2 separate regions of the Homo sapiens genome follow, and region 2 is linked to region 1. Evidence: fine-mapped expression QTL. A gene starts in region 1. The other region holds a variant in brackets. All regions are shown on one strand. Distances are between the middles of the regions. Region 1 holds the start of OXCT2 (3-oxoacid CoA-transferase 2). Region 2 has its middle 31 kb from the start of PABPC4-AS1.

Region 1 (4,391 bases):
CTGGGGTTCTTAGCGTCATTTATTTTATTTACTAGCAGTGGAGGACGACAGGATCTGATTCAGGTTTTAAAAGAGAACCCTCTGAGATGCCCCCCTCTCGGGGTGGAGCAGAGCTCCCCACCCCTTCCGTGGGCTGCACCCAGTGACTTGCTTCCCGAAAGTGCGGTGTGGACAGGGCGTGGGGGACCTGACGCGCAGCGCCTCAGCCAGGTGAGGAAGGCTCACTGCAGTGACCGGCACGGTGCTAGCATGTGCCCTGGGTGAAAGGGAAGGAGAAGGCCACTGAGCCTCAGAGGGCCCCCTCCGTGAACCCAAAACCCCAGTCCAGCCACGAGAAAACCGTCAAACAAACCCAAAGAGAAGGGCTTTCCGCAGAATACCTGACAAGCGCTTCTCAAAACCGCCAAGCTCATCAAAAAAAAGGGAAGGTTGGGAAATTGGAGGAGCCCAGAGGCACCTAAGAAGACCAGCTCAGTGCATGTGGGGTCCTGGGTTGAGTCCTGGACCAGCAAAAGGTCATTAGGGAGAAGTTATGAAATCCAGATCGATCATGGTGTTTACTTAATAATAAGGTATCAGTATTGGTTCATTAGTTATGAGAAAGGTACCCTGCTAGTGTAAAATATTAGCATTTCCCAGAGGAAACTGGGTCCAGGTGTATGGGAACTCCTTGTGTAGTTTTTTTTTCTTTGAGACAGGGTTTGGCTCTGTTGCTCAGGCTGGAGTGCAGTGGCGCAATCACAGCTGACGGTAACCTCCAACTCCTGGGCGCGAGCGATCCTCCCACCTTAGCCTCTGTACTATCTTTACAAAGTTTTATGTAACTATCAACTGTTGTAAAATTAAAACTTAATATATGCATAAAATAAAGAACCCCCTGACTTCAGTGGAGAGAGCAGACTGAGATGGACAAGAGTGAAGTCAGAGAGACGTGTGGGGGCCCCACAGTGGTCCAGGTGGGCGCTGTGAGCGACTTGTTGGTAGCAGTGGAGATGGAGAAAGATGAGTCGATTTCAGTGTCAGGACATGCTTATAGCTGGCGAGGAGGTGAGGGAACAGGAGGAAGCCTGAATGATGTGTGGTTGGAGCCAGTGGATTTTTTTCAATAGATTTTTCTTTTTGGGGAAAAGATAGATGAAGGGCAGGTTTGAGGTGGGTGGCCAAGGGTTCTCTTTTGGCTGGAATATTACTGACCCCCCTGGGATGTTACTGAGATCACTGGTCCTCATGGAAATGCCATTACAGGGACCGGTGAGTGTGAAGACCCAGGCGAGGGAGGTGCTGGCATGTAAGTGGATTTAAAGCATGGGATGGGACCAGGTCATCTAGGGAAGGAGGGTAGTGATGGAGAAGAAAGAGGGCCTGGCCCAGAGCCCTGGGACCTCCAACATCCAGAGACCTCACAAGGAGGGGCCACAGAGAGCCCACAGAGACCAGCCAGGGAGGGAGCAGGACACCTGGAGGATGAGGTGATCTAGACGCCAGAGTAAAGTGTTTCCAGAAGCAAGGGTTTGTCATTTGTGTCCTGCTGTGGGCACTGAAGGCAAGAACAGAGAAGTGACCAAGGGTTTTGCCATCACAGAGGTTGTTGATGACCTAAATATCCGTGGAGTGTGGGTCTGACTGAGGAGGTGGAGGGAGACAGGCAGTGGAGGCAGGAGACAGCTCTTTCCAGAACCTTTGCTGGGGAAGGGGAGCAGAGACATGGGCTGGGGCTGGAGAGAACCCGGGACAAGGCAGGTCCTTTCCAGGTGAGGAGACGCCTGCACGCTGCTGTGGTGATGCAGTGATTCTGTGCAGAGGGAAGAAAACTGCAAAATTCCGCACAAGTTGGAGCAGGGAGCTGGAGTGGGGGAGGTGGAGAGGGCGGGGGGATGCAGAGGACAAGACGGGGGGCCTCTTCAGAGCAGGGACCCTTCCTGATGGAGGTGAGGGATACTGTCCCCACTGTCGCAGTGAGGGGTGAACCTGAGCTCTGGGAGGCTGTAGTGGGGCAGGCACTCACTCTCCGGGTTGTCACAGGATTAAAGGAGGGTGCTTGGCACAGAGTGATGCCCAGTGAAGGTGTTCATGAGCGTCGGTGTCACCCAGCGGCGCCTGCTCATTGGACACTTGGTGTCTTTAATGAGCTGGGGAAGCTGGGGGGAAGCTTGGGCGGGGTGGTTGGAGTTTGTGTCTGAGGCTCCACTGGGGCAGGAGGGGACCTAGCCTGTGCCCTTCTCGCGGAGCCTGACCTCAGCTCTGTCCTGCGCCCGGGCCTGTGCGCTGGACACGGAGGACTGACTCGGGGGCCCCCAGCCCAGGGCGGAGCCGGCCCCCTCCCTGTTGCGGGTCGCGGGCCTAGCCTAGAGCCTGCGCCTGGCCGGGGAGACCTGCTGGGAGGGAGTGCGTCAGGGCGCGGGCGCCCGCCCTGCTCTGTGACGCGCGGCCCGAGGCGCACGCAGGGCTCACACCACCTGTCCTGGCCTCCGACCCGGGCCGACTATGGCGGCGCTGCGGCTCCTGGCGTCAGTGCTCGGGCGCGGGGTCCCCGCCGGCGGCTCAGGGCTCGCGCTGTCCCAGGGCTGCGCCCGCTGCTTTGCCACCAGTCCCCGGCTCCGTGCCAAGTTCTACGCGGACCCGGTGGAGATGGTGAAGGACATCTCTGACGGGGCGACCGTCATGATCGGGGGCTTCGGGCTCTGCGGGATCCCCGAGAACCTGATCGCCGCGCTGCTCAGGACCCGCGTGAAAGACCTGCAGGTGGTCAGCAGCAACGTGGGCGTGGAGGACTTCGGCCTGGGCCTCCTGCTGGCCGCCAGGCAGGTCCGTCGCATCGTCTGTTCCTACGTGGGCGAGAACACCCTGTGCGAGAGCCAGTACCTGGCAGGAGAGCTGGAGCTGGAGCTCACGCCCCAGGGCACCCTGGCCGAGCGCATCCGCGCGGGGGGCGCCGGGGTGCCCGCCTTCTACACCCCCACGGGCTACGGGACCCTGGTCCAGGAAGGGGGCGCCCCCATCCGCTACACCCCGGACGGCCACCTGGCGCTCATGAGCCAGCCCCGAGAGGTGAGGGAGTTCAACGGCGACCACTTCCTTTTGGAGCGCGCCATCCGGGCAGACTTCGCCCTGGTGAAAGGGTGGAAGGCCGACCGGGCAGGAAACGTGGTCTTCAGGAGAAGCGCCCGCAATTTCAACGTGCCCATGTGCAAAGCTGCAGACGTCACGGCGGTGGAGGTGGAAGAGATCGTGGAGGTGGGGGCTTTCCCCCCAGAAGACATCCACGTTCCTAACATTTATGTAGATCGCGTGATAAAGGGGCAGAAATACGAGAAACGAATTGAGCGCTTAACGATCCTGAAAGAGGAAGATGGAGACGCTGGAAAGGAAGAGGACGCCAGGACGCGCATCATCAGACGCGCAGCTCTGGAATTTGAGGACGGCATGTACGCCAATCTGGGCATAGGCATCCCCCTGCTGGCCAGCAACTTCATCAGTCCCAGCATGACTGTCCATCTTCACAGTGAGAACGGGATCCTGGGCCTGGGCCCGTTTCCCACGGAAGATGAGGTGGATGCCGACCTCATCAATGCAGGCAAGCAGACGGTCACGGTGCTTCCCGGGGGCTGCTTCTTCGCCAGCGACGACTCCTTCGCCATGATCCGAGGGGGACACATCCAACTAACCATGCTTGGAGCCATGCAGGTTTCCAAATACGGCGACCTGGCGAACTGGATGATCCCTGGCAAGAAGGTGAAAGGCATGGGCGGTGCCATGGACTTGGTGTCCAGTCAGAAGACCAGAGTGGTGGTCACCATGCAGCACTGCACAAAGGACAACACCCCCAAGATCATGGAGAAATGCACCATGCCGCTGACCGGGAAGCGGTGCGTGGACCGCATCATCACCGAGAAGGCCGTGTTTGACGTGCACAGGAAGAAAGAGCTGACGCTGAGGGAGCTCTGGGAGGGCCTGACGGTGGACGACATCAAAAAGAGCACGGGGTGTGCCTTTGCTGTGTCCCCGAACCTCAGGCCCATGCAGCAGGTGGCACCCTGACGGGACCTGGATCTGGGCGGGGTGGTGCGCTCCTCAGGGCGGGTGCCACCGGGTTCCCCAGGGGAATACATGTCCCCAGCTCTGGGAGGGGTTTGCTACTGGCCTCCTACTTTCCTCCCTAGGTGGACAGTGCTCCTCTAGAGAGCTGCGACTTTAATTAAAAACAACAGGAAAACAGATCAGTTCCTCACTGTGTTTCTCGAGCACTGCAAGGCGCAGGTCTGCAGTGGTGAGGAATGGATGTCCGCTTTGCTCTGTGATGTTTACACAGAGCGTGCACAGCTCAGTGCATTCACAGCAAGATTTGATTCAAGCGCCTCCCTCGTACTTGAACCATGAAATGGAGATAAAAA
Region 2 (4,391 bases), 240 kb after region 1:
AGGATTACAGGCATGCACCTCCATACTCGGCTAATTTTTGTATTTTTAGTAGAGACGGAGCTTTGCCATGATGGCCAGCTGGTCTCGAATTCCTGGCCTCAAGTGATCTGCACAAAGTGCTGAGATTACAGGCATGAGCCACCGTGTCTGGCTGATAACTATTTTTAATGTTTTGAGAAACGACCAGACTGTTTGAAGTGGCTGTACCATTTTGCATTCTTTTTTTTTTTTTGAGATGGAGTCTCACTCTGTTGCCCAGGCTGGAGTGCAGTGGCGCAATCTCAGCCCACTGCAAGCTCCGCCTCCCGGGTTCACGCCATTCTCCTGCCTCAGCCTCCCGAGTAGCTGGGACTACAGGCGCCTACCACCACGCCTGGCTAATTTTTTTGTATTTTTAGTAGAGACATGGTTTCACCGTGTTAGCCAGGATGGTCTTGATCTCCTGACCTTGTGATCCGCCCGCCTTGGCCTCCCAACGTGCTGGGATTACAGGCATGAGCCACTGCCCCATTTTGCATTCTTAACGGCAGTGTATGATGTTTCTGATGCCTCTATACCCTCACCAACACTTGTGATTATCCTTCTTTTTTTATTAGACCTATCCTAGTGATGTGAAGTGGTATCTCATTGTGGTTTTGATTGGCATTTCCGTGCTAGTTAATGATGTTGAGCATCTTTTCATGTGTTTATTGGCCTTCTCTATATCTTCTTTGGAAAAATGTCTCTTCAGACCCTTTACCAATTTTTAATTGGATTATTTGTCTTTCTATTGTTGAGTAAGAATTCTTTTGTTTTTTGTTTTTTGAGACAGGTTCTCACTCTGTCACCCAGCCTGGAGTGCAGTGATGTGATCACAGCTCACTGCAGCCTTGACCCTCTGGGCCCAAGTGATCCACCTGTCTCAGCCTTTCAAGTAGCTGGGACTACAGGTGCATGCCACCAGGCCCAGCTAATTTTATTTTTTGTAGAGACAGGGTCTCCCTGTGTTGCCCAGGCTTGCCTCAAGTGATCCGCCTGCCTTCACTTCTCAAAGTGCTGGGATTATAGGCATGAGTCACCACACCTGACCAAATATAGTCAAGAGTCCTTCTTTTTTTATTTTTGTAGTGACGGGGTCTTGCTCTGTTGACCAGACTGGAGTGCAGTGGCACAGTCACAGCTTGCTGTGGCCTCAAATTCCTGGGCTCAAGTGATCCCTCTGTCTCAGACTCCTAAGTAGCTGGAACTACAGGCATGCACCACAATGCCTGGCTAATTTTTTCTTATTTTTTGTAGAGATGGGGCTCTCACTTCGTTCCCCAGGCTGGTCCCAAACTCCTAGCCTCAAGTGATCCACCCGCCTCAGCCTCCCAAAGTACTGGGATTACAGGCGTGAGCCACTGCGCCCGGCCTTTTCTTTCATTCTATAGGTTGTCTTTTCACTTTTTTGATGGCGTCGTTTGAAGCACAAAATATTTTAATTTTGATAAAGTCTAATTTATCTTTTTTTGTCACTTGTACTTTTGGTGTAGTGATTATGAAGATTTACTCCTACACTTTCTATTAAGTATTTTATGGTTTTCTCTCTTACACTGAAGTCTTTACTCCATTTGAAGTTAATTTTTGTGTATAGTGTGAGGAAAGTGGTCCAGCGTTACTCTTTTACATGTGGATTTTCAGTCGTCCTAGCACCATTTGTTGAAAAGGCTAGTTTTTTTCCTGTTTAATTGTCTTGGTATCCTTGGTGAATATAGTTGACCATAAATGTAAGGGTTTCTTCTGGATTCTAAATTATATTTTGTTGATCTGTATGTCTGTTATTAGGCCATTACTACTGTGTCTTAAATTCCATAGCTTTGTAGTAAATTTTTAATTCTGGAAATGCGAGTCCTCCAACTTTGTTTTTCCTTTCAAGATTGTTTTGGTTATCCTGAGTCTCTTACATTTCTTAAGAATTTTGGGATAAGCTTATCAACTCGTATGAAAAAAGCCAGCTAGGATTTTAATACAGATTGCACTGAATGTGAAGAATTTAGGAGTATCATCATCTTAACAATATTAAGTCTTCTGATCCATGAACACAGGATATCTTTTCATTTGTTTAGGTCTTCTTCAGTGTTTTTCAGTAATGTTCTTTGGTTTTCTTTTTTTTTTTTTTTTAATTGGGATGGGGTCTTGCTATGTTATCTAGGCTGGTCTCGAACTCCAGGGCTCAAGCAATCCTGCCACCTTGTCCTCCCAAAATGCTGGGATTATAGATGTAAGCCACCATGCCTAGCGAGTCAGAATTCTTTAAATATTTTAGATACAGGTCTCTTATCAGATGTATAATTTGCAAATAGTTTCTCTCATTCTTTTTTTTTTTTTTTTAGACAGGGTCTCACTGTATTGCCCAGGCTGGAGTGCAGTGGTGCAATCACAGCTCACCACAGTCTTGGAACTC[CT/T]GTACCCAAGTGGTCCTTATGTTTCAGCTTTACAACTAGTTGGAACTATAGGCACACACCACCACACCTGGCTAATTTTAAAAAATATTTTTGTAGACAGCTGTGACTGCACCATTGCACTCCAGCCTGGACAACAGAGCAAGACTCTTCTAAAAAAAATACACACACATATATATATAGCAATTATATTTCTTTTCTTATTTTTGAGACAGAGTCTTGCTATGTCGCCCAGGCTGGAGTGCAGTGGCAGCATCTCAGCTCACTGCAAGCTCCACCTCCCGGGTCCACGCCATTCTCCTGCCTCAGCCTCCTGAGTAGCTGGGACTACAGGCGCCCGCCACCACGCCGAGCTAATTTTTTGTATTTTTAGTAGAGATAGGGTTTCACCATGTTAGCCAGGATGGTCTCGATCTCCTGACCTTGTGATCTGCCCGCCTCGGCCTCCCAAAGTGTTGGGATTACGGGTGTGAGCCACCGTGCCTGGCCGTAGATATAGCAATTATATTTCTATACATCAGCAATGAACAACCTGAAAACAGAATAAAAAGAAAAACAATTATACTTACAATAGCATAAAAAAGAATAAAATATTTAGGAATAAGTTTAAAAGATGTATACAGCTTATACTTTGAAAACCACAAAACAGGCCAGGCATGGTGGTTCACACTCATAATCCCAGCACGTTGGGAGACTGAAGTGGGAAAATCACTTGAGTCCAGGAGTCTGAGACCAGCCCGAGTCAACATAATGAGACCTCATCTCTACAAAAATATATATAATCAATTGTATATTGATTTTGTATTCTGCAACATTGCTAAACTTGTTTAATAGTTCTTTTTTTTTTCTTTTTTTGAGATGGAGTCTCACTCTGTCGCCCAGGCTGGAGTGCGGTGGCACGATCTCAGCTCACTGCAACCTCCACCTCCCAGGTTCACGCCATTTTCCTGCCTCAGCCTCCTGAGTAGCTGGGACTACAGGCGCCCGCCACCACGCCTGGCTAATTTTTTGTATTTTTAGTAGAGATGGGGTTTCACCGTGTTAGCCAGGATGGTCTCAATTTCCTGACCTTGTGATCCGCGCACCTTGGCCTCCCAAAGTGCTGGGGTTACAGGCGTGAGCCACCATGCCCGGCCTGTTTATTAGTTCTAATAGTTTTTTTTGTGGATTTTTTAGGATTTTCTATATGCAAGAGTGTGTCATCTGCAAATAGAAATAGCTTTACATTTTCCTTGCCGATTGGATGCCTTTCATTTCATTTTTTTCACCTAATTACCCTGGCTAGAACCTTCAGTACAATGTTGAATAGAAGTGTCAAGGGCAGATATCCTCGTCTTGTTCCTGACCTTAGGGGGAAAGCATCTTGTCTTTCACATGTAGTTTTCTGTTGATACCTTTTATCAGATTGAGAAAGTTCCCCCTTCCACTCCTAGTTTATTGAGTTTTCATTATGAAAAGGTGTTGGATTTTGTCTACTGCTTTTTCTGTATCTGAGATGATTATGTGGTTTTTGTTCTTTATACTATTGATAATTGTCTATTACATTGATTGATTTTTAGATGTTAAACCAACTTTGCATTCCTGAGATGAATCCACATCTTTTTTGGGTGGCTGTATTTCACTAGATTGTGAGCTCCACCACTGTTAGGGCCAGTGTCCCCAGGGGGCAGGTAGGGGTGGATGTCCCTAAAGTCTGTCTTTATTCTGCTCCTTCACTCCCCTGAGTGTCCCCTCTTCTATTCTGTCTGCAAAGGCAAGGATGGGAAGCCAAGGCAGAAGGTGATCATTGGCAACTGTGGGGAGTATGTGTGAGGCGGCACTCTCTCTGCTCTCCACTCTGCTCTTGCCCCTGCACATCCAGGAAGGAGCTGCCAGCCTCAGAGGAGGCAGCACCGAGGGTGCCCTATTTGAAGCAAGCAGGATTTGTGGCATGAGGCCCACCTTAGGGTCAGCTTGGAGCACCTCTGTAGG

Evidence for each region.
Region 2: its variant is fine-mapped to the expression of OXCT2 in spinal cord (GTEx, PIP 0.90).

Annotation. Positions count from the first base shown.
Region 1 is chr1:39,769,349-39,773,739 of GRCh38, reverse strand. OXCT2 (3-oxoacid CoA-transferase 2) reads left to right here and starts at 2,392. Exons shown (of 1, transcript NM_022120.2): 1 at 2,392-4,217. The coding sequence starts at 2,485. The coding sequence ends at 4,038. All of the region lies in intron 3 of BMP8B (bone morphogenetic protein 8b), which reads left to right. RefSeq lists enhancers at 1,673-2,345, 2,346-3,019 and a silencer at 2,360-2,459.
Region 2 is chr1:39,531,679-39,536,069 of GRCh38, reverse strand. It overlaps the pseudogene PPIEL. Among named protein-coding and RNA genes, the nearest start is that of PABPC4-AS1, 31 kb to the left of the region's middle. The variant CT/T (reference allele first, on the strand shown) is at 2,423.